Homo sapiens: one gene and its partners. The protein of the gene in region 2 interacts with the protein of the main gene of each other region in a pairwise test. Each region holds a gene or a part of one and is shown on either strand. Other genes may lie near its edges. The genes, in order: SLC34A2, TMEM128, GAD2 and SLC26A6.

Evidence for each region.
Region 1: the proteins of TMEM128 (region 2) and SLC34A2 interact in binary tests that used the Homo sapiens proteins (3 or more experiments, as listed by UniProt).
Region 3: the proteins of TMEM128 (region 2) and GAD2 interact in binary tests that used the Homo sapiens proteins (3 or more experiments, as listed by UniProt).
Region 4: the proteins of TMEM128 (region 2) and SLC26A6 interact in binary tests that used the Homo sapiens proteins (3 or more experiments, as listed by UniProt).

Annotation. Positions count from the first base shown.
Region 1 is NC_000004.12:25,672,828-25,679,249, reverse strand, and holds the end of SLC34A2 (sodium-dependent phosphate transport protein 2B), read right to left. Parts: intron 6,164-6,422; coding exon 5,996-6,163; intron 4,955-5,995; coding exon 4,838-4,954; intron 4,746-4,837; coding exon 4,621-4,745; intron 3,116-4,620; coding exon 2,501-3,115; 3' UTR 502-2,500; downstream 1-501. UniProt on the Homo sapiens protein: Involved in actively transporting phosphate into cells via Na(+) cotransport.
Region 2 is NC_000004.12:4,245,209-4,252,487, forward strand, and holds the start of TMEM128 (transmembrane protein 128), read right to left. Parts: upstream 3,016-7,279; 5' UTR 2,995-3,015; coding exon 2,898-2,994; exon of another isoform or gene 2,418-2,897; coding exon of another isoform or gene 2,393-2,417; intron 1,136-2,392; coding exon 994-1,135; intron 1-993.
Region 3 is NC_000010.11:26,219,774-26,226,797, reverse strand, and holds part of GAD2 (glutamate decarboxylase 2), read right to left. Parts: intron 2,912-7,024; coding exon 2,821-2,911; intron 2,260-2,820; coding exon 2,147-2,259; intron 1-2,146. UniProt on the Homo sapiens protein: Catalyzes the production of GABA.
Region 4 is NC_000003.12:48,632,441-48,640,358, forward strand, and holds the start of SLC26A6 (solute carrier family 26 member 6), read right to left. Parts: upstream 3,022-7,918; 5' UTR 2,954-3,021; coding exon 2,931-2,953; intron 1,407-2,930; exon of another isoform or gene 1,196-1,406; coding exon 1,037-1,195; intron 951-1,036; coding exon 811-950; intron 645-810; coding exon 534-644; intron 1-533. Other genes in the region: CELSR3 (cadherin EGF LAG seven-pass G-type receptor 3 precursor), read right to left, coding at 5,765-5,792, 7,234-7,918. UniProt on the Homo sapiens protein: Apical membrane anion-exchanger with wide epithelial distribution that plays a role as a component of the pH buffering system for maintaining acid-base homeostasis.

The DNA of each region.
Region 1 (6,422 bases), about 21 Mb from region 2:
AATATAAAATGACACTTTTCTCCAGGTTTTTGAACAAGAGGCTCCACAAATTATGCAGCTGGAGGGTCAGATGGTAAGTGGTGGGTAGTGACATTCAGTGAAGGAAGAGACCTCACATTTTTTTTTGTTCGTTTTGTTTTGTTTTTTCAAATGTTTATTTTATGTACAAAGAACTATCATGGTTTTTCATTGAGTAGATGACTTGGATAATCCTTTGAAGGAAGATCATTTAGTCCAACTTAATGAAACCGATATCCTTCGCGTACTGACAGAAACATTGGCGGCACTTATTGAGGCCATATTTCCGGATCAGACCGTGCTGGTTTGAATAGACACGACAAGAACGAGAACCCTGGCCGAATTTTTTTGGGTGGCTCCAGTACAGCTGCTGGTGACCCATCTTGCTCCTAGCAGTGCAACGAGGTAAAAGGAGACCTCACATTTTTATAAAATAGATCCAAGGAGGTCCCTATTTCCCTGTAATTAAAAACAACACACTCCTTTTGGGTTTGATGATTTTATTTCTCCCTTCCCATAACCAGTAAAAAAAAAAAAAAAAAAATTACAATCAGGCCTGGTGGTGGCTCACGCCTGTGATCTCAGCACTTTGGGAGGCTGAGGTGGGCGGATTGCTTGATCTCAGGAGTTTGAGACCAGCCTGAGCAACACAGCGAGACCTGGTCTCAAAATTATTATACAATCAATGCAAGTACAAAGATTCAATTTTTAAAAATCACCAGAGTACAAAGACGGCCACAGCCCCTGCCCGGGTTTAACTTACATATATACAGAGTGGGCGGGGCAGGCATGGCCACAGAGGTGGTATTACAAAATATACAAAGTGGTTTCTTTCTTTACATTTCATAGAAGAAGCCTGCCTCATTTCCAAATGAGAGCACTAGAAGCACAAATCATGCAGACCATTTACTATATAACTTATGAAAAATGCTGTACAGGGCTGTGACTATAGATATAGAGTATTTGGCTCTGTTTGGGAATTGATATCTACAAGGGGGAGGGTCAGGGGAGGACTGTCTGATATCCTGACTTGCTGGGATGGTGGAGAAGCTGGGATGGGGGAGGCCCCAATCTTGCTGCACGGCTACACCCACTCCTCCTTTCCTAGATAAGGCTGGAGCGCACTGGCCAGGAAGAATTGGGATGGCTGAGGGTGGGGCGGGGGCAGTGGTGTAATCAGGCAGGAGGCTGTGGAAGGCACAGAGAAGGCATCTAGGATGAGAAGGAACACACCCCTTTGACCCATGCACACACGTGTGCTCGACTGTACTTAATGATCCCAGTTCACTGGGCAGTCCAGTTGGGTACAGCTTTCCCCAAAAATCTGGAGCTTTGCAGGCATGGAGAGAGGACAGCTAATCAAAGCCCATCTGTGGGAAAATGGAAAAATGTTTGGAAAGAGATTCCAGTGGGTGGGTGGATGGAAAGAAGGAAGTTAACCCAGGAAGTCATCTTGCACAGAAAGTAAGGAGGCAGAGAGGGGTGGAGAGCTATTCCAGGTGCAGATACTCCCTGGGATTCAAGGTGGCAGCATGCAGGCTACGAGCCTGGATAACTTGCACGTTTTATTTCAAAAGATCCAACAGGGAGGGCTTTTGTTATCTGACCAAGAGAGGAGCGTTAGACTTTAGCCACAATGCTTTTGAATTGGGCTTCTTAGTTTGCTAAATTAAGAATCTGGGGCCCTTTTGGCAGAATGCTATGCTACTCATTCCTCACTTTCTTCTCCTCCATCTGCCCCACTCTCTGTCTCTTAGGAAGACAAGAGCAGCAGGTGAGCACATGTATCCAGCCTGAACTCTAGTTCAGGCGTGGCTCCCATCCCCGAAGCATGAGGACAAGGAAACTGCAAGTGAACTGCCTGGACTAGCACACCTGTCCACGTGAGGAAGCCCTGATGGGGAATGTGGGGAGCACTAGGAAGTGGGATAGACCCACACCTTGTGGTCTGCAGTTTCCAAACAATGACACTATGTCCCCTGACCCAGGCTGATCTGGGGCAAGGAGGCCATGGAGCTGCTGCTCTTGGTTGCCAGACTTTGGTTTAAAAAAAGGGAGAGGCCTGAGCTTGATAGTCATAGAGAGTACACTTCCTCATCTGGGAGAGCCTCTCATACATTCCTTCCCTGGGCCTTTTCTTTCTGAAGATGGTTTTTGAGTCTGAAAATAGGTTCTACTGACCAACCCAGCTAGGCGCAGGATTAGACATCCGTCCCGCCAGGTTCATTCTCTAATTCTCTTTAGGTACCATCCTGTGCCTTCCTGGAGTAAAAGATTACTGAGTGACCAGGGGTTGGAATAAAAGTGCCCTGCAGGCCTACCACCAAGCCAAAGGGAATCGAGTTAGGTAGGACTGCATCAATTTCATTCGCTAATGGGGAGCAAATCTCCTCGAGGTGGTGAAAGGGTGCAGAAGTGGGAGGGAGGAGAGCATGCAAAACTCAAGGACCATCCCCCCATCCCTGACAATCTGGGGCGTCCCCTACAAGGCCGTGCATTCGGTCTTTGAGTCCGAGGCAGGGACCTCACCCTGAGCCTCTCTGCTAATGGTTATGTTATCAAAGGTCTCAGGAGCCTTGACAGGGACATCCTGCCCCTCCTGCGCCTCCTCCAAGTCCTCGCAGCACTTGCTGCAGCGGCAGCACTTGGGGCAGTCACACAGCAAGCAGCACGCGCGGCAGCACACGCGGCAGCAGCAGCAGCAGCGCATCTGGAAGCAGCCGGTGAACTTGGAGACGACGGCATCCCAGGGCTTCAGCGAGCGCATCCACAGCGGCAGGAAGTTCCAGTTCTGGAGTTTCTTCGGCAGGACGCGTGGGCAGCGAGACTGCAGGAGTCGGAGGCACAGTACCAGGATGATGATGAAGACGACGGGAACCCCGACACCAACCAGCACCCGCCAGCCGGCCAGCGAGAGGCCAAACACCGTCAGCGGGATCAGGAAGAAGAAGATGATCAGGTAGAAGACGGCGAACCAGCGATACTTGGCAGAGATGTTGCCCAGCCCCTTGGCCATGCGGATGGGCAGGCGAGTGAACGGGATCGGGTACCACAGCAAGATGCCGGAGATGTTGAAGAAAAAGTGGCACAGGGCGATCTGCAACACAAGAGGTTGGACAGGTGAGGGGCCTGTTGCCCAATGCGGGTGGCAGTAGGGAGGAGGAGGGGGAGGTAAGCTAGCAGGCATCACAGGCAGCACAGTCTCGGGCCTTCCAGGCCTTCTTTGTCCTTATGGCTCAGCCCAGAGGGTACCTGGATTCCATGAGGACCTACTATGTGTCTGGGAGGGCCAGGAGCACTCAACTGTGCATTATCTCAATTCTCAAAAAACACTCTACAGAGTGGCAACCATTATTTCTTGACATGAGAAAATGGAGGCTCCTCAAGTCCCACAGGTGGGAGATGGAAGAGGTGGAAATTCACATCCTGGGAGCCTGGCTCCAGAGGCCAGGCGCTTGGTCACTTTCCCAAGGTGCCAATTTCCATGCCCAGGCTGTGGACCAGCACTGTCCAATACACTAGCCGCATGTCCACACTGAGATGTGCTTTAAGTATGAAATACACACCAGATTTCAAAGACTCTCAATTTTTGACAGATGACATATTAAAGTGATAATGGTTTAGATCAAATACATTATTGAAGAATGAATCAGCCTGTTTCTACTTTTAAAAATGTATCTACTAAAAAATTTTAGGATGACATATGCGGTTAATTTATATTAGATGCCTGAATTTCTATTTCTGTTGCACAGATGGCTTTGCCTCATCAGATCTTTATAATAATCCTAATGAGATAGGGGTTATGTCCTCCATCTTTCAGATGAGGGAATTGACGCTCAGGTTAGATCACTTGCCAAAGGTCACTTAGTATGTAAATGGTGAGATAAGAATTCAAATCCCCGGCTGGGTGCAGTGGCTCACGCCTGTAATCCCAGCACTTTGGGAGGCCAAGGCAAGCACATCATGAGGTCCAGAGTTCAAGACCAGCCTGGCCAACATAGGGAAACCCCGTCTCTACTAAAAATACAAAAAATCAGCCAGGTGTGGTGGCAGGTGCCTGTAATCCCAGCTGCTCGGGAGGCTGAGGCAGGAAAATCACTTGAACCTGGGAGGTGGAGGTTGCAGTGAGTGGAGATTGTATCACTGCACTCCAGCCTGGGCTACAGTGCGAGACTCTGTCTCAAAAAAATAAAATAAAAATAAATAAATAAATTCAAATCCCAAAGGTCTTGCACAAAGTAACATAGATGGTCCATGCCAAGGAGTTCTCCTAATTGTAAAGTTCCCCATAGGAGGCAGTGAGGAGATGGGAGGTGGTGTCTGTGCTTCCTAAGTACCTTTTCCACATCTATATCAAGGGGCCACCCCACTTTTGCTGAAACAACCACCAGTTATGAGGGTCTTACTGCTTCTCTCAGAACTGATAGTTTTGATTGTTCTCATATCAAGGTCCTGAAAACTTTACCCGTGGCTTCCCCTCCACATATTAGTTCCATATTTTGGATAGTACAGAGAAAAGCCTGGCTCTTGTTAGAGACCAGTTTGCAAGACCATGGGTGGTCCCACTCCCAGGGCCCCTGTCCCCGTGCCCCAAGTCCTGACCTGGAGTGAACTCCTCAATGCATTGCCAGGGCTGGCTAAGGCGGCCAGGATGGCGGTGGTGGTGGTGCCGATGTTGGAGCCCAGCGTGAGTGGATAAGCCCTCTCAATGGTTATCACGCCGATTCCTGGGGGAAACACAAAACACAAACATATCAGCCCCATGGGATGACAGGAAATGGCAGTGGTGGCCAGAGGGAGAAGCCAGGGTGTAACTCACCAATCAGGGGGGTCAAGGCCGACGTGAACACAGAGCTGCTCTGTACGATGAAGGTCATGCCTGCCCCGACGAGGATGGCCAGGTAGCCAGTCAACCATGCAAAGGGAAAGGGGAAATCTGGAAGACAGAAGGAAGAGATGTCATGGCCTCTCCGGGGAAGGTATGGCCTGGTGGCCTGGGGTAGGGGCTGGGCTTAGGGGTGAGGTTGTACATCATCCCATATATGGTCTCAGATTACAGAGTAGAGTTTTAGAATCCAGTTTCATTCCCCATTGTCTTTTGCTCCGCATATTCAGATGGAAAAACCAAGGATACAGGTAAGTGTTATGAAAACAAAAACACAGATTCCCTGGAGGTCAGGTTAGAAAGAGTGAACCCACCCAAGTAACCACTCTCCTTCCAGAAAGTGCTGAGAGCATGCTTCCTCGCCTGCCCTGGTCTCCTGTCAGCACCCACATTTGACCTTCAACCTTCATTTCTGCCTTAAAGAGCATCAAGAAACTGTAGCAGCTTGGAACATGCCTGCCAACTGAGTCCTCCACCCAACTAGCACCGGATCAGGCCCTGCATTTCCCAGAAGCACCCAGAGTTGCTCTGTTCCCCAAGACAATCTGGGGTGGGGGGCGAATTTTCTTGGCTATATTTCACTGAGCTTTCATGAAGTGATGATGTCATTGGCTTAGCGAGCTCTCATTGGCCAGGACACCCTACTTGGCAGGAAATCCTCTTAGCCAGCAGTCTCATTGGCCACCTCTAGATGCTGATGTATTTATGCATCACATTTCCTTTACAAGAGTGAAGGGAGGTGGGGGCGAGGGCAGACACCTGGGGTCCTTTTTCTAAGGGGTCTTGACAGAGCCAGTAAAGCTCTGAGCATACAGGAAACCCGCTAAGAAGGAAGGCCTGACTCACAGCTCTCTAGATATGAACTCCTGCTCAGGACCTTGCCAAGATGCAATGGAAACTTGGGCCTGCTCCCTAGACCCCACCCAGGATGCCAAGAACATTTCCAGGTGAATGACATCCTCACTTCTGGTGCTGATCCAATCTGAGAGAGAAACTCCATGCAGAGGCCATTGCTAGATGGGAATCTAAAGGACCCCCACACCCCATGCAGTGACTACATGTGAGGCCTACAAGTGAGGGCAGTGTACCTACCAGTGTTGATGGTCTTCTTGATGACAGTGGCGACCTGCCCCTTGAGCACAGAGCCCAGGATCTTGACAATCATGATCAGGCAACCACAGAGGACCAGCAGGGAGAGTATGAGCAAGATGGTGCCCACAGCAAGATCCGGGAGGTGGAAATTCACAAAGATATGCTGGCCTGAAAGACCACAAAGAATCTTGTCAGGAGGGCATGGAGCCACCACGGCTACAGATTGTTATTTATTCCCCCAGATCCTGTCTTTCCTACAAACAGATTCCTGGTTGTTAGTTTAACAGATGGCAGCCCCAAATCAAGACAGCCCTTCTCAGCCTCCTTCGCAGCAAGGGGCACCACTGAAACTATGTCATAATCAGTGGGATCGCATGAGGCTGGAAGATGAAGTGATGGCTTTAAAAATCACACAACTGTTCAGGGG
Region 2 (7,279 bases):
CACATCACTCTCCAATGTGCAGTAAGGACCCTAGGATATGATTCCAACCCTCTCCTCCATGTCAACTCTGGAGACTATACTGAAAGGATCTCAGTCCCTGTGAATGAGGAACTACTGGACATCTGGTCTGGCCACAAAGCTGTCACTCCTCCCACTGTGGACCTTCACCTCCACTCTAACACAGTTACACCCTGTAGTTACCTTGTCAGCTGTAACCACCCTCTGAAACCAACCCTGAGACCCAATTCCCACTGGCCACAGTTCTCGGCTCTTCCTCCCAGTACTCTTGTACTTGGTCTTTGAAGACCTTCAGTCAGTCTTTCTCCCTCTTTTCCCCAAATGGATTAGGTTCTTCTTAAATTTACTACCTTCCTCATCCTACAACACATTTATTTGCACACAAATAATTTCCAGTTCTATTCCACTCTACTGTATGTGCCCAGAGCACACACCCTCTCATTGGTTTTATTTTTTCCAGCTTTATTGAAGTACAATTGACAAATTAAAATTTTATATATTCAAGGTATACAGTGTGATGACTTGATATATATATACACACACACATGAATATATACATATATACATATATATGAATATATATATACGTGTATACATATACACACACACACATTGTGAAATTATTACCACAATCAAGTTAATTATCACACTCATCACCTCACATAGTTACCACTGGTGGGGTAACAGGGGGAGGACACAAGACCTACTCTTAGAAAATTTCAAGTATACAATACAGCCTTATTAACTATAGTCACTATACTGTATGTACATTAGATCTCCAGACCTTATTCATCTTATAACTAAAAATATGTACCCTTTGACCCCCATCTCATATTCATCTTCGTATCACCACACCTCCAACACAGGGCCTGGCAGAGAGTAGTAGGTGCTTACTGTTTGAAGAATTCAACTAACAAAATATAACACGAAAAATCAGACTTGGGTTTAATTTACAAAGCAATAAAATTTTCTTACCTGCTAGTGTGGAAGTTTTCTTTAAGGGTTTTAAAGAAGTCAACATAATAGGTCACAACAATGGATGCCAAAATCCAGAATCCAGAATGGATATTAAGTCTTGGAAGAGGTTTCTCCTTTTTCTCAACAGCTGTGGAGGTTTCTGCAAATAAGGGAGATTTCAACTTATTAAGTTACCACAATTTTGCGAGGAAAAATTACACTTAAGCCAAATAAAATCATTTCCTAGAGCTAAGAAACAGTCTCTCCCATGATAACAAATCCTTCTGTAAAACCCTTGAGATAGGTTTATATTTACAAAAAATAAGAGCCCACTATAAAATATGGTCAATACAGTCAATTTATTTCCTCTAAATACATTGTGAAATCAAATTTACACTTTCATCGTCTTTCGGAAATAACAATGTCACCTGGAAATGTAAGAATTTTAATATTATGTTTCACATTTCTTCTAGGAAAGTAATTAGTCTTGTTAATTAGGAAAAATGCCAAAGGCAAACATTAGCGCATGAACTGGACTTGTGGTCTTCCAAGAACACTTTTATAACTAAATTTTTTTTTTTTGAGTCGGAGTCTTCCTCTGTCGCCCGGGTTGGAGTGGAATGGTTTGATCTCGGCTCACTGCAACCACCGCCTCCCGGGTTCAAGCAATTCTCCTGCCTCAGCCTCCCGAGTACCTGGGATTACAGGCGCCTGCCACCACGCCGGGCTAATTTTTGTATTTTTAGTAGAGACGGGGTTTCACCATCTTGGCCAGGCTGCTCTATTTGGCCAGGTTGGTCTCGAACTCCTGACCTCGTGATCAGCCCGCCTCAGCCTCTCAAAGTGCTGGGATTACAGGCGTGAGCTACCCTGCCCAGCCTATAACTAAATATTTTAGTTACTTTAAACACAGCTCAAAAGTGGAAACGGCACACCAGAGCTCTAGTTCCAGCACAGCACTGTCTAGACAGGTGATGGACAAGACATTTTTCCTGTCTGGAACGCAATCTGAAAGAATGGGTGGATGGGGGTTGGGTCAGATGGATGATTTCTATTAAGTTTTCCGGGGATTCTGACATGCCCTCTAGGTTCACGTGAGAATCAATGGTCCACATCTGAGGTTTTGGGCCTTTAGATGACCATCGGAAACCCTGGGAAGCATGTTCGTAATATTCTGGGATATCCTCAAAATGTATACATCATCATGCCTGGGCATGAGGTTATTCGTGTTTTTAATTTTAAAAGGTAATAAATGGACGTGGTTTTAAAACATATGAGATAAAAAATATCCAAAATGAAGTATCTGTCTCCCATCCTTAACCTCAGATCTAATCCCCAGAAGCAACCACCACTTACAATTTCTACTGAATTCTTCCATATTCTATGCATTCACAGGTGAACATACATCACAAGTTACCTGTTTTGTACCCAAATGGCGGCATACCATAGTGTTCCACACTTCCCTTTGAAAATCATCCCCATTGGTACATACGAGTCGACCTGATGTGTCAGGTATACATATACCCAAATTTACTTAAACAGCTTTCTGCTGACGGGCAAGGCAGATATTTCCAGTAATTCGCTATTACAAGCAATCCTGAAGTGAAACACTGCGCACATCATTGTACACTGCGGTACACGCATGTTTCTGGTAAATCCTTAAGACTTAAAACTGGTGGGTATTTTTAATTTTAATCGCTATTTCCAAATAGGTGTCAAATCAGCTCTCCAGAGAATTCTGAAGCGCAGCTGAAATGACGATGCACAGCACTCCGCGATTCTAAGGATCTTCCCTGACATTAAATATTCGACTTGCAAAGCCGAAACTCAGTCCTTCCAGACTGGGCCAGGGCTGCCGGAGGCCGGCCGTTTTCCGACGCCTCGCCTCTGAGAACCTCGGGGCGGCTTGGTGCGCGCCTCACCCGGCCCGGCGTCACCCTCGCGGTCCAGCTGGGCCTCGGCGTCCGGCAGGAGGAGGAATCGCCGCCGGAGCTGCTGCCGGGCCCGCGAGGAGTCCATCTTGGTACCGCCCCGAAATGCGACGGAAGTGACGTCAGACACAGCGCTTCCGGCGTCCGCTCCGGGTCTGGACCTCCTGGCGTTTGGATTGGAGACTGTGTTCTCTTCGCTGTTTAGTTAGCGAGCAGCTAGGGTGGAGTCGGCCTCAAAGGTTCCGCTCTCATGTCGGCAAGTGTGATTTGAATTTTAAAACACTGAGCTTTGCCGGTGGAAGAGTTCCCAAGTTTATTCCGACCTACGGAAGCCCAGGAGGACCAGGATTACCGCTGCCGCTGGATGCGTCCAGGGCCGGGATGCGCGACCGTGAGACGCTGCGCTTCCGAAGCCCTCGCAGGCTTCCGGGTGCCAGAGCAGGAGACATACCCTCTGTCCAGCCTTCCACTCTCAGCCCCCAGTTTTTTTCCTACTTTTGCTTTTCAGGAGTCGTCCAGCAAGACTTGAAAGGAGGAGAAAGGCCTGCTGGACAGGATGCTAGAGCCTGGCAGTGACCACTTGGGGGCCCTGGGCATTAAATAAACTTCTTGGGGCCCGTTTCGTTATTACACTTGGCTCTAGATTTGTTGTGCGTTTCAGTGAGAAGTACCTGTATGTGGTTCATGTGAGCCTCCTCCTCGCCACTTGTGAAAAATCCTCCCAGCCTGAACCGAGGGAACTAAATTGCTTTCCCAGCAAACTGCGGTTTTCCACACTGCTCACGCCCACAAACTGTGTGTTACGAGTTCACAACTTTTTCTTCGTCAATAATCCCGCGTATTACTCTCCCAGCCGTTTCCCAGCGTGTCATGTGCTGAGAAATGGTGGGCTTAGCCACGCAAACGTTTACTGAGCATCTACTATTTGGTAGGAGCTGTTAGGCACCATGCTAGCAGTGGAGATAAAGATGAGTAAGACATGGCCTTGCACGTGAGGAGCTCCTTGTCCAAAGAAAACCACAGAGGTATATTACAAGAAAACTCTATTTGTAAATGTATGAAAGCATTTCATCAATGCAGCCAACATTTTCTGAGCAGCTGCATGTGATAAAATGGTGAGGACAGAAGAATCTAGTAGAGGAAGCAGCTTCAATACAGTGCCATAATAAAAACACTGTACATGGGGCATAATAGAAACACTGTACATATAAAGGGCAGTTTATTCTGCTGCAGTGTGGGAGAGCAGGGAGAGTGGTTTCAGGTGAGTTGAATACAGGGGTGGAGAGCCAGCTACATAGGAAGTAAAATTTGAATTAGTAGGCACTGTTTAATATCTTCGATGTGTTGGGGTGTTTGTAAAAGGAATGTAATAAGAAATACTCAAGAAAAGAGTGCCAGCCGCGCGCGGTGGCTCACGCCTGTAATCCCAACACTTTGCGAGGCCGAGGCGGGCGGATCACAAGGTCAGGCGTTTGAGACCAGCCTGGCCAACATGGCGAAACCCCGTCTCTACTAAAAATACAAAAGTTAGCCGGGAATGGTGGCCGGCACCTGTAATCCCAGCTACTCTGGAGGCTGAGGCAGGACAATCACTTGAACCTGGGAGAAGGAGGCTGCAGTGATCCTGCCACTGCACTCCAGCTTGGGCAACAGAGTGAGATTCCCTCTCAAAAATAAAAATAAAAAAAATTAAAAAAAAGAGAGAAATACCAAATCCCTACTGATTTATCATTTCTTCAGCCTTTCTTCCCCCTTCGGAGCACAGGATTTAACAGCTGGGTGGATCATATGGCCTTTCTAAACAATACCTCCTTTATCCTGTTTTTTTTTTTCTGTTTTTTTTTTCTTTCAAGACTCCTAAAGAACTGGATTCATTTATTCAAAGTCAACTGAAGTCTTTGCCCTCTCTTCTCTCTCGTACGGGGTTAGAAGCCTTGTTAACAGGAAGTGAATTTGTCCCATCAAATACAATCTTCTGTTGATTGTCTCCTCGAAAAAGGGTCAGTGCAGGGCCTCCGTGGTAACTGAATACTCCCAAGAGCATCGCCGCTATCCCAGGTTCCCATACATGGTATGTTCAGGTCAGATCAGGTTTCTCCTTTTGTGGTTTCGGGGCCTTTGAATTTGGATCTGAAATCCTTCCAGAGTTTTTTTCTCTGCAATTTTAAATGGCACTACTTGCACAGCATATTGATGATACTTAAAAGGAGGTTGGAAAAATTCCAGTATTTAATGACCACATCTTCATTTCTGAGGTCCATTAAAGAAGCCCTTTGGGCAGGTGCAGTGGCTCATGCCTGTAATCCCAGCACTTTGGGAGGCTGAGGCAGGTGGCACCTCAGCTCAAGAGTTTGAGACCAGCCTGGCCAACATGGTGAAACCCCGTCTCTACTAAAAATACAAAAAAAAAAAAAAAAATTAGCTGGGCATGGTAGCAAGCGCCTATAATCCCAGCTGCCTGGGAGGCTGAGGCAGGAGAATGGCTTGAACCCAGGAAGTGGAGGTTGCAGTAAGCCAAGACCACCCATTGCACTCCAGCCTGGGCAGCAAGAGTGAAACTCTGTCTCAAAAAAAAAAGAAAGAAAAGAAAAGAAACCCTTCAATGTGTGTACTGTGGCACCCTAATTATAGATAGATATGTGATACCAGATTTGCTACCAATTAAGAAATTTTCATTTTCAATGTGGATTACTTGTGGGGAACAAATGAATTTCATTGTGACCTTTACTGGCCCCCCCTTAGCAACATAGTTAAATCCAAGGTGTGTATAGACTGTCAAATCCTGCCTCCATCACTGTGGGTCTTTGGGCAAGTTATTTTATTGTTCTAAGTATCAGTTTGCTCATCTGTGAAACATCGGGTATTGGAGTGAAGATACATGTATACAGATTGTTTAGCTTAGTGCCTGGCATACATAGTTTGCCTCCAAACAGCAGTAGTTACTATTCTTAGTAATTTGGCTTGCCAGGCCTTCAAGATCCGGCACCTGTTCGCCCCTTGATCAGTGTTCCCTTGTCCCTGGGTTCCAGTGACTCTATTCATGTCTCTCTTCCAAGAATTACCAAGCTTTATTGTTATTTTCCTTTTGCCCTGTGTTTCCCCCAGTTGATTGGGAGAAACAACCATGTCTTGGTATCCCCCAGTACCTTGCAAACACCGAGCACACGGCAGGAACTCCATTAGCTGTGCTTACTTTGGTCCTTGAGCACAGCTAACTTGTCTTCAATATGGATATACATGTGTCTGCCTACCTCTGAGAAACCACTGCTGCTTTCTATAGTGGTCCTGCTCAGATCCCAGAGACTGACCCCGTCCTAGGGGAGGGCACAAGACCCAAAACAGACCTCTCATCCTCCACGTCTTAGGCTGGGAAGATGTTCACGGTTGCTTTGATATGGTGAGCTCTGAGGTCAGTTTGGGCTTGGGGCTGCTGTTCTGGAAATGGGAGCCCACGTGGGAAGGAAGCACTGAGAGGCAAGCTAAGAGGTCTTGGTAGCATTGCGCCGCCTCCCAGATCTAGCCAAGCCTTAGTTAATCCTGTTAAGGAACTGAGCTCTGGAGCTAGCTGCCTGCCTGGCTGTCATTGCCGGTCCTGTCATTACTGACTCTTTGAACCTTGAGAAAGCATCTTATCCACTCTTTGCCTTAGTTTCCTCACTTGCAAAATGGGGTTAAGAATAATACCCACCTCACAGGATTGGGTAAAGATTAAAAGTATTAATACATGCGAAGTCTTTAGAGCAGCCCATAGAAAACTCTCAGTAAATCTTAGCTGTTATTATCCATTGCTGAGACTTTACAGATGGTTAAATTTTCCCTTTTTTAAATTAATTTTAATTTCAGTTGTTTTCTGTTACTTGAAACTCTGAGGCCAGACCAGTACCACCCTGTTCTCTCACTGTGCTGTGTAGCTGCCCCATTGGTCCCCAGGTATTCTGTGAGCGCCTCCAGGAATGAGAATACAGGTAAAGCTCTTAGAAAAGTACCTGGCATATGGAAAGTGCTCAGTGAATGTTAATATCTATCATTTAGGATACTGTTCTTCATTCCAAGAAGAAAGCTAGTTTTAAAAAGTTCTTCCATTGATTGTATAAAAACACAATAAAATGTGTGCCTATTTCTACACAGCTGTGATTATTCCCCTGGTAAAAGCTATAGCATTGGAATCCCTAGATCAAAAGATACAAACGTTTTAAAGACTTTTTTTTTTTTTTTTTTAGATGGAGTCTTGCTCTGTCACCAGGCTGGAGTGCAGTGGCATGATCTCAGCTCACTGCAACCTCTGTCTCCTGGGTTCAAGCAATTCTCCTACCTCAGCCTGCCGAGTAGCTGGGACTACAGGCGCATGCCACCATGCCCGGCTAATTTCGGCT
Region 3 (7,024 bases), on a different chromosome or scaffold from region 2:
GTCCTAAAGGACTTTCCATGAAGCATGAAGGCTTTGGATATTATTGATGGAGCTATGACACAGTATGTTTTAAGTCACAGACCTAACTCTTCACATTGAGTCCCAGGGAATGAGACTTTTAGATCCCAGATGCATAAGATGTGTGGCTTTCTCTATCCCCACCCCTTAAATTGTAAGACCCTTTACTGCAGGAGCAAGGCTGGTTGCTCCCGGGAATAGCATCCATAGCCAGTAAGGATGTGATGAGCCACTTCTCGTCTGTGATGTCTTGTAGAAAGTAGAGCAGAAACAGGTTGCAATGACCTTTTCTGCTGTCTCCTCCCAACTTTGCAATGTCTGCACTGCACTGTAGTGTGACATCTATGGCTTGCATCTTGGCGTAAGAGCAAATGGGTCTTTAGGCTCCAAGGAAGCCTATAATTCCCATGCTCAAGCTGAAGTCTTCTCCATGTGAAAATCCCCCATTATCAGTGAGGGTGGAGGGTAAGCTCTAAGCCTAGCAGAACTGCCTAAGAGAATTATTTCTCTGGGTGTATGTTTTCTGGGGCATGTAGGTTTTTCAGACCAGCCAGGTAAATTAGGCCTAGCTGTTAGTCAAATTAGTCAAATTTTCAGGGTCAACAGGTACATCTGTCCTCTCCCTACTCCCGGGGACCATTAAAACTTATGCACGGGAATAAATTCAGCATAAAATAAATGCAAATAAAAGAAAAAAAAATAGAGCCCAGCATGTTCTTGATTCATCTCAGGGACAGATCAATCCTATAACCAACCACACAAGGGTGGGAAGAAGAAAGGTAGAAATGATGTGGATCTCTGTACCCCACCTCATTCCTCATGAACAATGTTTTCAAAGCATCAGGCAATGATGACCAAGCTCCCTCAACAGGGATGGCTTTCCAAAGGAAAACTAAGTACTAAGTGCCATAAAAAATAAAGGCTAGCTTAAAATTCATCACAGCTGGTGTTCAATGACTTTTTAAAAGGCTAATTTTCCCTTCCATTTAACTAACACCTTTTCCTTCAGCACCTGAAAAATTGTGCTATATATTTAAACACATAAAATAGCTGACCAGAGCTTGCAGGCAAACATGCTTAACTTAAGCCCTGGCCTTGGGGTCACTCTTGCTTATCATTTCTTCTTTTCACTTTTTCTTTTCTCCCCTATCCCCGCCTCATCATTTGCTTGTCTTTGTAGATTTGCTGAAGAGAGAGCACAACCACTTGGCCTTTGCTCTGTCTGACACAACGACAGGTGTTGCTCTGGCCTCTCTCTCAGGTGGGTCCTGTCTCAGTGGACTAATGACATCCGCTCCTGCCACTGATTAGCTGATGGTCTGCACATCGGGTTTCTTTTCCATGGGTCAGTGACTCTCTTTGCATTGCCTTCCTAACTTCTATTTCTTTTCTGCATCAAACCAAGGTCACACACAGAACTGTAAACCAAGGGCACAGCTTTTTGTTTCAGGTTGATTCTCTTGGCTGGAAGAGGTCTAAGTAATGGAGCTTAGAATTCAATGGCTGGTGATAAAAAGGCAGGATGGAAAAGACTGAATGGCATGATAAAGAAGAGAAGGGATGAGAAATCTCTTGAAGAAATCGTCACCCTCTATTTTTGCTCTAAGAAATTCTCTCCCAAAGCGTTCTCTGTCCTCCTTGAAATTAGTGTAAATCCACTTTGGTGCTTGTTATTTCAAAGACAGAGTGGTCCATATGCTCTACTGAGTAGATATACCTTGCTATGCACCCTTGAACAGCAAATGCTTTATTAAATGAGGCTACCCATTTCCTTTCACTAATTCTAGGAAGAGCATCAGAGAGTGAATTTCCTGATTAGGAATCTTGATTCCTTTGTTCCACATTATCCGTACATCCTGTTTGTAGGGTCACAGTAGAAGCACTGGGTAAGTACCATCTCTGATTATGCTCACTTTGCACACAAATAACTGATGTTCAAGCATGGGTTACTTAGCTTGGAGGCATGTTCAATGGTCATGTGCACTTAATCACAGTCATTCTTTTGATCAACACACAGTCTATTTAACCTAAGCAGAGGCATAGGCTAGATTTTTAATCTTCCCTAGGTTTACAACAAGGCATTGCATATTAGAAGAAAAAACACAAAGAAAGTTGAAATATCATGTACCGGGAGAAAATATCCCATCGCCAGAGCCCCCTGGCCAGCCAATGATTTCTCTCATTTTCTTTAGTGTGACATATTCCAAAAGCACAAATACTGGAGCAATTTCATAGGTGAACCTGAAATGTAGTAATGGCCACATTTTACCTCTGTAACTCAGATAAATAATTTACAATCATTACAATAGCTACAGAACTATTTCCTTTTTCAAAACATACATTTACAAGTGTTATGATTATAACATTAAGCAGAGAGAAAATTATTTCAAAAAGGCCTTCCAAAATGTTTATTTTTTCTATATCCCTACAGTCAAGAGCTCCAACTACTGACATAATGCACGAGGGGAATTTATTGTATTGAATAAATAAAAAATATTGCAGAGTAACATGATTTAAAATATAATATCTGGTCCCATTTGTCTTTGACATTATGCACAATAATAAATCAAACGTGAGAAAAAAGTCTCTTTTGTATTTTAAAAATTTTGTAGAGTTTGATTACATGGAAGATGTATCAGGACTACTTTCTGTTACATTAAAGTGAACACTCACACTTCAGAAGTTTGTATCACTATTTTAGTGGCTACTTAATAAAAAACAGATTTTCACATAAGATGTAAAGACTATGGAATGTCACTAATAATTATCCTAAATTACATAAAAACACATTTGGCTACTTACATGTTAGTATTTGCTGTTGATGTCAGCCAGTCTGCTGCTAATCCAACCATATCCAAACCAGTAGAAAGTTGATTGAAGTATCTAGGATGCCCTGAATAAAATGGAATACCAGAATCAGGATTGCCTCCAGTGAAAATAAATGCCTCTCAAACACATGATTTCTCTAGCTAAAGGACCTTGAAAGATCTGTCAGTAACAGGAAATCCATAAGTAGAAATCCAACATGTACACACGTGTGTATGCACAAGAACACACACACACACACACATGCACATACACACACACACACACCATAAAAGCGTTTCCTCTAACCACGAAGACTACTTTAGGTTTTGATATTTCTTAAAACATACCCTACAAATCTTCCTTTAATCGGACCCTATAAATATAACAAATATGGTTTGCAATCTGCATGAGTCTCTTTTCTATTTTCAATATTTTCGCAAGCTAAAATGCTACTGCAACCCACAGCCATTCAGACAGGTAACTTCTCCTTTATACTCATGCTGCTAGAAGTCCTTTTTTGTAGTCGTTCTGAGAATCGGTCATACCATGACATCCGCCAGGCATGCCAACATTCATAATAATATCAGTGACAAATGGCTGATGATTACAAAAGACAGGGCAAAAATGAGAAAATAGGACACTCTGCTGAATGATTTGCCCTGGATTCAAAAGGTGATGATTGTCTAAAGATGGCATGGACAAAGCTAATTCTTGTCAATTCTTCTTTGTTAATTATAAACAACAGCGCTCCTCCATAGTTGTGATTTAAAATAAGGCCACATACAGTCAACATCACTGTTTTATCAACAAGATACAGAAAGATATACTCAATCGACTGATTAGTCCATCGCAAGGCTTATCTAATTAACTTCTAGATTCCTCTAAAACTCTCTAAATGGATTGACATCCACACTCTCCTGAGGCTATTATTTAAAATGTGATTATAAATATGTCATTAGCATTCAGTTTTCTCCTCTTGCTCCACAAAAGCCTGTCATCGATAGGTCCGTGATTTGCACAGCAGCAAAAATTTTAGAAGATGGGCCATTGTGGAAATAGCATCTGATAAAAAGGTATCTTCCACATCCTGGACATCTGTCTGAAGCCTGGGATGTGATTGTCTCTCATCTCCAGCACAGGCAAAACAAGATAAAGGAAGGCAATGGGGAAGAGCAGGGACAAAAGTCAATGGCTAGCTTATCTCCTGCACTGGAGTGCTCTCTTATCAGCCTCAGGCATGTGGCCAGACAGACACTGGGTAAAGATATAAGCTGGGAGGGAGCCCATTTTAGCGGGATCAGGACTTGTGTATCTATTGTACATTCTCCAGCATTGTTTTATGTCCTTGTGGCCTCGTGTGGTACCCCTCTATCTCTGATGCTGACCCCCTCAGTTTACCCATCCACGAAGGGTGAGAAGGCTTTTTTGCTGCTGTGGCCACTGAGGTCTGGAGCAACCCTTCACTCCTCTCTGCCTCATTGACTCCCCATTTCATTATGCTCGCAGCTGAAATCACAGCCATTTCCTCCCTCCCGATGCTCCTTCATTTCTCTTTCCCTAACCCTTTTTTTTTCAAGTGAGGAAATTAATAAGGATTATAATTCATATTCATTTTCTGGATGAATGTGGTGTCTATGATTAGACAGTATTTAACTCTAGGGAAACTTGGGAATGAAAACCTGTGCATAAGATGGAGAGAGATTGTGAGGGGTGTGTTGTGCCTCTGGATATCAGAAGGCCAATTCACCCTGATGATAACTTTCCGTAAACAGTGAAAACAGGTTTGACGCTTTCATTGCTAGGTTTCCCTTCCTCCCTATATATATTTTGACCTTGCTCTGCCATTTCACCTGAATCTCTCCTGCCTCAAAAATTTCATTCCCTGATGATGATGTGAAAATAGGGAGGGAGATAGTTTGACAGGTCAGATCAACAGGCTCTCTCGATTTCTGGCAGAAATATTCCCCTAGTGACATTTGCTCCCATCCTGTGGCCCCTACAGGCTGCTTCCTAGGGCTGCCCAGCAAATCAAGGCAGGGCTCTCTCCAAGGAATTGTGAGACCTGCCCCCATAGGTCAGGTGTCCCTGCAGCCCTTGGCCTCCTGCTGCTGTCGCCACCCTGCCAGGCCCTGTGATGGGAGCAGAGCGCACTGCGTCAGCCATTGGGTGGCCACACAGCCTATGCAGCCAGGAAGGTGGCGAGCTTGAGATGTGAGAACTGGCTGCTCAGACTCAGGGATGCTCCCTGCAGACTAGCAAATGAGCCCGGAAGGATGCGCAGACTCTGCGAACAACCAGCCTCAGGCAACTCTGACCCTGTGCTCATGATCAGTTGGGAAGAGGCCAAAAGTCGGTCCAAACTGCTCTTTATGTCCTGGCAACACTCACACTAGGGCTGCCTCATCTACTGACGCTTAATTCCCTTTGTCTGATGGTTTGGTAAAAGATTCAGGACCACATTTAAGTCCTACTCTTCCCCAGCCAGCACCACCACCACTAGCACCAAATCTAATGATCTCTGCAAATGCAAATTATTCTGGAATTCTATCATTCTCTGCTCAGTTTTCCGTGTTCCAACATTTCTTTTTACAGAGGTAATTTTAACAATCCATGAAGACTTCATTTTCCCACTGCCCTTCACTCCTCTCTAAGCTTGGAGCCCAAGTGGAAATCAGGTTAAGGTCTCTCAGTAGAAACAAGATGATAATATGCATTTTATAAAATAATCTCTTGAGGAGTATTAAAATGTCTGGTAGTAGCAAGGATGGTAACTAATTTGACATACCCTAAATAGCATTAGATGACAAGTATGACAGTTATAGCACAGAAATCTATAAAGTTGCCAGCTGAATAGAGAAAATGACTGCTGTTAATTTTTTGAAATGCTATTTGAAGGAAAAGGCCAGCAGACTAAATATGTTATGAAAACTATTGAGAGATTGAATTGATATGCCTTGCTTAGAAATCCAACTTAATCCATCACATTTTTATCTGAACTTTAAATAAAATGCATTACAGTGACACCTAACAGTTTCATAAGCATTATGGCAAAATGTAAGTATTGAATTAGCCCATCTTTTCCTGGCACTAAATGCAACGTTGATAGACAGAACTATTACTTTCATTGACTTGCAGTTCCCATTATCTTAACTCTGTAGACTGCATTTCAGGCACCACTAGCTTTCAAGGATGAAGACACAAAACATTTCCATAGGTTCTTTTTGGTTTGGTAGCAATACAAACAATAGGTGGCAATTTACTATTAACGTATCTAAATATAAGGTATGGGGAATGGGTCAAAAAATGAATTAAAAGCATCACCCAGGATTGCACTATGAATGCAGGAAAAGCTGAGGAGGGGTAGGAAAATTTTTAATGCCTGGTATAAACATCACGTGGGTTCTTCATGAACGTTAATTGAGGATGATGTCTAATACACCTTCAAAACTCCTATTCCATAGCCTGACTTTGATAGAAATCTATGTCCCAAGGCTTTTTGTATGCCTACCTTTCTTCTCTGTTGGTACAAATAATGTGAACAAAAAGAAAAAAAGAACTAAACTTCTCACAGCAAACATTTTAAGAATGTTTGTTATTGATTAGCGTAATACTGCTAATTCATCAGCAAAATGTTTGCAATCTAAAAAGATGACGTTTCTATGGTGATGAATGTTCATGTCATATTTCACATTTTTTATTTGCTAGCAAATCTTTTAAAGGCTACACATCAACTTCGATCCACAAAGTCCTCCCCACCCCTGGAAATTCATTCATACTTATTTTTATTGCCGTAATGAAGTGTCAGCCATCGTGTATCAGGATGATTAGAGACAACGTAAAAAGCGAGGGTAATCAAGACCTGGGCAGATGAATGGCTGACTTTGTGTAGATAACATGAAAGCTCGGAATGCACCCAAATAAATGTTATAAATGAAGCTGTAATATGGATGGAATATAAAGACTCCTGTGAAAAGCCAAGAGACCACAAAAGTACATTTAAAAAAATTTCCCCCTAAGGATATCTGATTTGCCCCTCCCCCCCTTTTTCTTTATCTCACATATACAGTGGCTGGGAGGAACACACATCCTTATATAACATGGCTGAATTGCTAAGCTAGTCTGTATCATGCCTGCTTGTGTGTTGTGCACATTTCCTTAAAAATAAGTGAAAATCTGAATTCAAATCTGAAAGGTTGGC
Region 4 (7,918 bases), on a different chromosome or scaffold from region 2:
CCCTGCCCTGGAGCCCTGGTCTTAAGAGAGAGGCCAGGAGACTTCCAGTTCTGGATAAATGTACTCAGATTATGGCTGCATGAACAGGGACAGTGCTGGCGGTTCAGGTTTGGCCAGGCCAGGAGTAAACCCTGAGCTCACAGGCCCTTAAGCATGGCTAGAAATGCTGGCCCTGTCTCATCTACCCTGTCCCACCTGTGTCTACTGGTCCCGGGACACAGAGGCTCTCTGTGGAGTAGGGAAGGGGTCAGGGCTGGCCTTAGGCTGCTCAGGCCTCTGCCAAGTTCCAGGCCCCTTGGGCTGCCTCACCCACTCTCATCTTCCTGGAGCCAGGGCTTTGAGGTCACCTGCCTCTGTGGTCCTACAGTCAGGGGTCTAGTCCTGCCTGGGGATGACTCGTGGGCTAGCCCAGGGATGCAGCACCAATGCTGCCCTCTTCCCCAGCCGCTCCTGCCCTGCTCAGTGCCCCCTCACCCTGCCCTCCATGATGGATGTGGGCATCCTCCTGGAAGGCTAGGCCTGCCTCCACTTACCCACGGAGATGTGCCGGGAAGTGCCAAACAGGAAGTAGATGAAGACAGGGTAGAAGGAGCTATAGAGGCCAAACACGGGGGGCAATCCAGCCAGGAGGGCGTAGGCCAAGCCTAGGGGTAGAATGGTAGCAGTGCAGGCCTGGAGAGCAGATCTTGAAACGATAAGGGAATCCCAGCCCTGGGTTAGGTGCCATAGTTCCAAGGTAGAGGTCATGGCCCCAGTTTTGGGCATCACAGACCACAGGGTTTCCAGGCCGACGCACTGAAGGTGGCTCACCCTGCGGAAGCTGCATGATGGCCACACTCAGGCCGGATAACAGGTCACCCAGGAGCCAGTCACGCACAGGATACCGGGGTAACCAGACCAAAACCGGGAGGTGTTGGAGCAGAAGGGCATAGGCCCGAGCACGGGAGCACCTAGGGACATGATATGAGGGGTAGGTGTCAGGAACAGGGGCTACCTGGGCCCCGCCAGCGCCCCCAGGCCCCAATCTTGGCCTTACTGCAACCAGGTCCGCCACTGGTGGGTCCTAGGTGCTGAGCCCCAGCGCCCCAGCTCCTCCAAATGCTCCTGGTTCAGCAGCGGCCGTTCCATGTGGTAGTCTCGCCTCCGCAGGTCCATTGCTTGTGTTGCAGACAGCAGTGCCTGTGTGTCCCTCGGTCTGGGGTGGCAAGACCAGAGAGACACAGTGAAGGCATCCCTGGCCCAACCTCCCCTACACCTCCACCTAGGACCAGAGAGTTACCTACCTGATTTTTCCAGGCCCTAAGATCAAGGTACAGTATTCCAGCCCCCAGCTGGCATCTGTGGGCCACATGTCCAAACTCAGACAGGGGCAGTACCTGAACTTTGGCTGGTGAGAAAGCCTCTTTCTAGGACAAAGTCCCCCAAGTAGGGACTGCAGGATGAGCACTAGCTATACCTCCAGCCGAGATGTGGCAGCCCAGTGCTGAGTGTTCTACCAGTCCAGGTCCCAGGCTGCTCCCTCCCCCACCCAGTCCCTCTCCAGTCCCCAGGTCCTCCTCCAGCTGCCCCGGGAGCCCACTGCTGGCTGAGAGCACACTCAGGGAAGGGGTCCAGCAAACCAGGGGTCCAGCTCCTCAAGCAACTCCTTTCCCAAGCCTCAGGCCTCAGATGAGACCCTCCCCTCTAAGGGAAGGAAAGTGTTGGAGCCAAGCTTGCCCCTGGGCCTCCAGCCCCAGGGTCCAGGTTGTAGACGGCTCAGGCCTGTTATGGGGAAGCCAAGGACTGGCTCTCACCTGAGAAGGAGCTTGCTCTTGGAGTGGCAATCTCTCACCTAGAGGGAGAGGCTCCCACATGGAAAGGGAAGTACCCACTTGAAGTGGGGGAAAGAGCTCACCTGGGAATAGAAGCTTTCAAGGGGAATCTCACCTAGAGGGATCTCTGACCTACCAGGGAATCTTTATCAGCCTGGCAAGTTCTGATACAGGGGGAATCTTCCCTCTGCCCAGAGGCACCTACTTGAAGTCAGAGAAAGATCTCACATGGGAAGAAAAGACCTAGAGGGAGAGGGTTCTCACCTGGGGGGTACTCTCCCATAGAGAAAGCTCTGACCTCGGGCGAGGCTCCCACGTGGAATGGGGAAAAGCTGTCACCTGGGAATAGATCTCACAGAAGGATCTTACCTGGGGGAAAACTCTAGCCTGTTGGGGAAGCTTTCACCAGTCAGGAAAGTTCTGATCTAGGAAAAGCCCTGACCTGGGGAGAGGATCCCATTTGAGGGACAGGAACTCACCTGGGAAGCGCCTCTAACCTGGCTGTACTGTTGGAGGAGTGTGGAGTGGGTGCAAGGAAGATCCTCAGAGACTCTTGGGACCGCTATCTCAAGGAGATCGTAGAGCCCCCTCTCCTTTCCTACGTGAGTCACTCAGGTCTTCTTAAAGGGCTCCCTCCCCCGACAACTTGGGACCCGCGTTTGGAGGGCGGAGCCTTGATCATTGGCCCCTCCCTGTAGGAAGGCAACTGGGGCCAGAAAGGCCGGAGCGCTCACTCCGGGATCAGTGGAGCTGGGTGGACTCGGGACTCAGCTGAAAGCAGCTAGTCCACGGGCCGCTGCCAGGGACTCCCGTGCCCCACGCACCCCCGCCGGCACATCTCCTGGCCGGGCTCCTCCGCACGCAGCTGCCTCCCTGTGGCCCGGGATGGCCCTCGGGCGTCACACCAGCGGCTTTCCGCACAGCCCAAGGGACTGGGGTCGCGCCGGCTCCCGCCCCCACCCCTTGCTGCAGAGGGGCAGCCGCCTGCAGAAAATCAGCAGAGGTAAACCGAGGCGTCGCAAGCGGAGAATGCCTGCTCCAGCGAGGCGTCGCAAGCGGAGAATGCCTGCTCCAGCGAGGCGCTCGCGCGGGGCCACCGGGAATGTGCGCTGAACTCACCCCGACGCATCCGCCAGCCCCATGGCTCGCAAGTTGTCCGGTGCGGGCTGCTCCTGCTGCTCGAGCTAGAGGCCGCTACGCTCCGGAAGGCGGCGCCGGGACCGGGTGAGGCCAGCTGCGCTCTCCCGGGGGCTAATCCCGGGGCAGGACGGGGAGGCTTGGGCCAATCAGCGCGCTGGGGCGGGGCCTAAGTGGCGCGCGCCGGGCGGGGAGAGACTGGAGAAGGAGGATTTAACCGCTTCCTCCCCGGCGACCTGGCCTATGAGGCCTCTCGCTGCTCGCCCGGCCCTCTGCCCGGAGCTGGATGGGACTGCAGAACTGGAACTAAGCACCCGCGCCGGGCTGGCCGCAGTCGCGCCCCCAGGCCCTGAGTAGGTTGGAGCTGATCCCAGGTCCTGGCTCGGCGGAAGGTGCTCACGGAGTGGGAAAAGGAAACTCCACTGGCCGGTGACCCCAGCCTTAACTCGTAGGGGATCCAGGTCTGTGGGGCCTCTCTTGCCTTCAGCTGAGAGCGCCACCCGCAGGCTTTCTGCGACTACGCATCTCTTTGAGACCCGGAGCCAACGGTCCCCAAGTCCTCCCCTTTAACTCTGGCCACCCAGGCCAGAAATGGTTGGAGGATCCCCTCCGCTGCACTAAGCACAGCCCGGACGTAGCTCCCAGAAGGTTACTGCGCGGGCCGCCGAGGAGAATGGTGGGGGTCAGTGCTGTTGGGTGGGCGTCAGTGCTGTTGGGTGGGCAAGGCAGGAACTGCAAGAGCAGTTCCTCAGGTTGGTTTCACCGCAGGTGAGGGCAAAAAATGCCGGGTCAGGGCTGCAGACCCTGAAGAATTAGGAAGTCCTGTTGCCGTTGCCTTGACCAGCGGGGAGGTTTTCCTTAGCACCTTATTTTCAGCACCTGTGCTCCAACATCAGGCCCCAATTACAAAGTGAGGGGCCAGATTTCAAGGTGAAAGAGATCTGCCATGAAATGGGCTAAAAATAGCTGGATATTCTTGGGAGGGGCTCAGATTCCTCCCAAAGGTCAGTCTGGCTTGAATCATTCACAGCTTCCATCCTACCTCCCCAGCCCCCAACAGGAAAAGGCAACAACTGTTTTCTATAGAAGTTTATTCCCAAAACAGAGCGCGGCTTCACGGAACAATTTACACAGACAGGAAAGAGGGCCGCTGGGCTGGAGGAGGGGAACCCCAGAGAGGGGCATCTACGAAACCTAGGACATAGTAAAGACACCCTCCCACCCCCAGCAGGCCACTCAGCCCTTCAAGAGCTGGGGTCCTTCTCGGTAAGGAGAGTTTGGGTCCTGGCTGGTGGGATTTAGCTCCAGTCAGGGAAGTAGAATTTCTAATCTCCCAGGAAGCTGCTTCCCAAGAGTATGCATGGGGTGGTGGGTGAGGAGGTGTCTGCACAGACCACCCCCCAGCCCTGCACAGCCACTCTCCCCCGTGGTTAGAGGACGCCTACTCTCAAGGTCTTCTGGATCTGCTGTTAAACGGGACTCAAGGCTGACCTTCGGCCTGGGAGACCTGGGGGTTAGAAAACCCCTCAAGATGGCCAGGTCAGGGTCCTCACAGGTGGGTCCTCCAAGTCCCTCTCCCACTTTCCCTACCTTTCACTTGGAAACAAAGGAAAAAAAATTATCTACTGTAAACAAAGTGTAAAACTCAAAGTTTTGAGTTGTAAACAAAGTAAAAACATTTTTTGAATCTGGACTTGTAAACAGTAACAAAATTTTAAAGTCTTCAGTTCTGGACAGCAGACAAAATAGCAAAAGTAAGAGTTTTGTGAACAGGGTCGTAACAGTCATTTTTCCCTTTTTAAGGGAATAAAGGAGGAGTGGAACGGAGTCACTTCCTGCAGCCCAGGTGCCTAGGGCCACGGAGGATCCTGTAAACATAGGAGGCAGTGGCACCTACATTCTGGGTCTTGAATTCCCTTGTTTCTGCTCCCTTTGCTCACCTTCCCACCCTACCCTTCGGAATCAATTCAAGCAGGGGGCAGTGTCAGGGAATCAAATGGCACCACAGACAACTTTTGCTTGCTGCAGGGGCAGGTGAATGACCCCTCCACCGACCCTCTGCAGGAATGTCTGACTAGAGGCCCGAGCCCCTCCCCGTGGGAGACAGGGAAGCCTTGCTCTGTAAACACGACATCAGCTGCTCCACCAGCACCCCACAGCATCAGTCCTAGGTCATAAGGCAGTAAGTGGCAGGGACTCCACATAATAAACACACACATCCACCAGGAGGGGCGGTATGAGCAAGCCCCCATGAGGAAGTCAGAGGACCCCTGTTTCCAAGACCAACCCCCAGCCCCAGAAGTTTGGCCTTTGGAGCATTCAATAAAAAGCAAAGAACAATTCTGTACTTTGGGCCCCTGACGATACTCAGATCAACTTGGGGGTGGAATAGGGGGAGGAAGGCATGTGTCCCACCCATCTGAGTCCACCCCAGGAAGGAGAGAGAGATGAGCATAGGGTTTGCTCAGGACCCAAATGGGGTCAAACTGCATCTCTCCCTCTATCTCCCTCCCCCTCCCAGCCCAGCCTCAAACCCCCCAGGAGACAGAAAAGCTGAAAAATAACATAAGCATCTCTCTGGTTACAAAGGTACAAAACGTATAAAAGTCTCCCTCCAGTCCCCCGTCTCTGCACCTGTCACACGCATGCTCACAGATGCACATGGAGCCTCAGCCCTGCCACACCAGGTAGAGCTGGGGCACCCACCACTGGGGAGCAGGAGGCTGCCTTGGGATCTGCCCCCACTCCTGGAGTCTCTCCTGTTAGCCTAGATCCTCTGTCGCCCTCAGCTGTTCCTCGTCCACGCCGTCATCCCCTCAGGAGTGACCCTCACTTCTGGGAACTCTGGAGGCACATGAGGAAATCAGAGGTTGATGCCCAGAGGACTCCGAGTCAGGCGGCTCTGGACTCCCCCACCACATTTGGCCTGGCTGCTTCCCTTGCCTCCACCACTGCTCTCGCCTCTTAGCCCCCAGCCCCTTCATGCCCACTCCAGGGTTCTCAGAGTCCTCCATTCCGCGCCCCTAGACTCAGCCAGGCTCCTTGGCTGCCCAGGTGTTTTCTCTAAGTGCTTCAAGAGCACCTACTGTTTACAGATGCTATATTGAGCACTTGACAGATATTATCTCATAGATTTCCACATCTCAAAGAGTTTGTTACTACAGACTTCTTTACAGATGAGGAAACTGAGGCCCAGAAAAGCTTGCCTCTGCCTAAGGTCACGCAGCTAGTAAGGTAAGACACAGAGCTCAAACTCAAACCTGTGCGACTCCAGAGCCTGGACCCCTGCTCAGTCCCTAGTCTACCTCCCAAACAGCCAGACCCCAAAGCTAGACTGCAGGGGGACCCAGGCCGTGGGTTAGCTCCCTCTGGTCCCCACCCCCAGCAGCCCTCAGTGCCCAAGCCCCAGGATCCCCAAACCCCTGCTCTTTCCTCCTTCCTTTGTCCTCTCTCTGCCCTGGGTCCTGCTCAGTTCTGTCGATCCCCTGCCCCACCCCTAGGGCCCCCTTCCTCCCCAAGCCATCTCTTACCCCACAAACCCCCAGAGCCTGACCCAGCTGTTTCTCCTCCTTGAAACTCAACTCTCCTCTTGGCTTACAAGAGACCTGGAAGCTCCTGGTTCCTCCCCACTCCCACCAGTCCCTCTCGGACTCCTGTGTATCCAGCTATTTCCTGGGTCTGTCCGCCATCCCCTTCCCCACAGATGCTTCACACATACCCGAGATGAACCAGGTTCCAACTCAGTTCCTGTGAGCCCCACCCCAAAGTGTCCACAGACAGGAGGAACTCAATGTTGACTGAATACATCGATGAATGAATGATTTATCCTCAACAAAGCAAGCCCTTCAGCCTGGTATATCCTGGCACCACTTCCAGCCTCTCCTTGTCCTATATGACCCCCTAGGCGAACCTTCCCAAGCAAGGCCTCCTGCTCTCCTCCCTGCCCCTTGCATATTCCAGGTCATCTCCCACTTCTAGGCCTCAGCTCCTGCCCTCCCATTCGCTAGCTCAGCCCATCGGATGGCACCTATTTCTCCTTAGCCTGGGAGGTGCTGGGAAGGCTGGCTGGCTCCAGTCACACAGCCAGCAAGTCCCTGCTAGTCACACCCCCATTTCTTGCCAGATTCCTGTCCCCAGCCTGTGGCCCTCTGGCTGTGCTGAGCCTGGGGTAGCCCACACCTGTCTGCCAGCCCTCATCCCCTTCTGTGGCAGAACACAGGGCAGGGCACACAGGAGGTTGCCCTAAGCTGATGAGGGTGCAAGCAGGTGGCTGGACCATACTTACTCTGAGTCTGGCGACAGCTCCGAGATGCTGTGAGACGTGGCAGAACGTGGCGTGGAGGGCCCAAGCACAGAGGCTGTGGCAGAAGGTGTGGCAGTGGTGTGAGGGCCCAAGGGTGTGCTTGAAGATTGCACAGAGGAGAGGGCCGAGGAGTTGAAAGAGGCAAGGATGGAGGAAAGAATGTCCAACTGTTCTGTGGAGGGGCCATGGCTGGGGCCACTGACCGAGTCCTCCCTAGCTCTGAGCAGCTGCGGGAGTGGCCCAAGGGCTTCTCGTGAGGGGTGCCGGCTAGGCACCTGGTCCAGCTGCTCCCGAGAGTTCGAGCTCCTAGACAGAGAGTCCAGCGGCCGGGATGGCAAGAGGGGGTCCCTTGAGAGTTGCCGCTGGGGAGACAGGGGCAGAGGTGGGGGCTGTGGGTCAAGGTCCCGGGTGCGGCGGGGCGGAGGCAGCGTGCTCAACCACTCTCGAGGTGCCCCTAAGTCGAGCGCATCCCGTGACCCGAAGCGGCCAGCCATGGCGCCAGGGTAGTCCCGAGGTGGCTGCCTCCGTGGCAGGGTGCTGCCCCGATCTTTGGGCTCCAGTCGGCCTGGTGCAGCATCCATGCATTCCTGGGACCCTGGCCGGCTCAGGGGACGTAGAACAGGGGCAGGGGCTTCCTCTAGTCGCTCACGGCTCAGTTGCCGCCGGA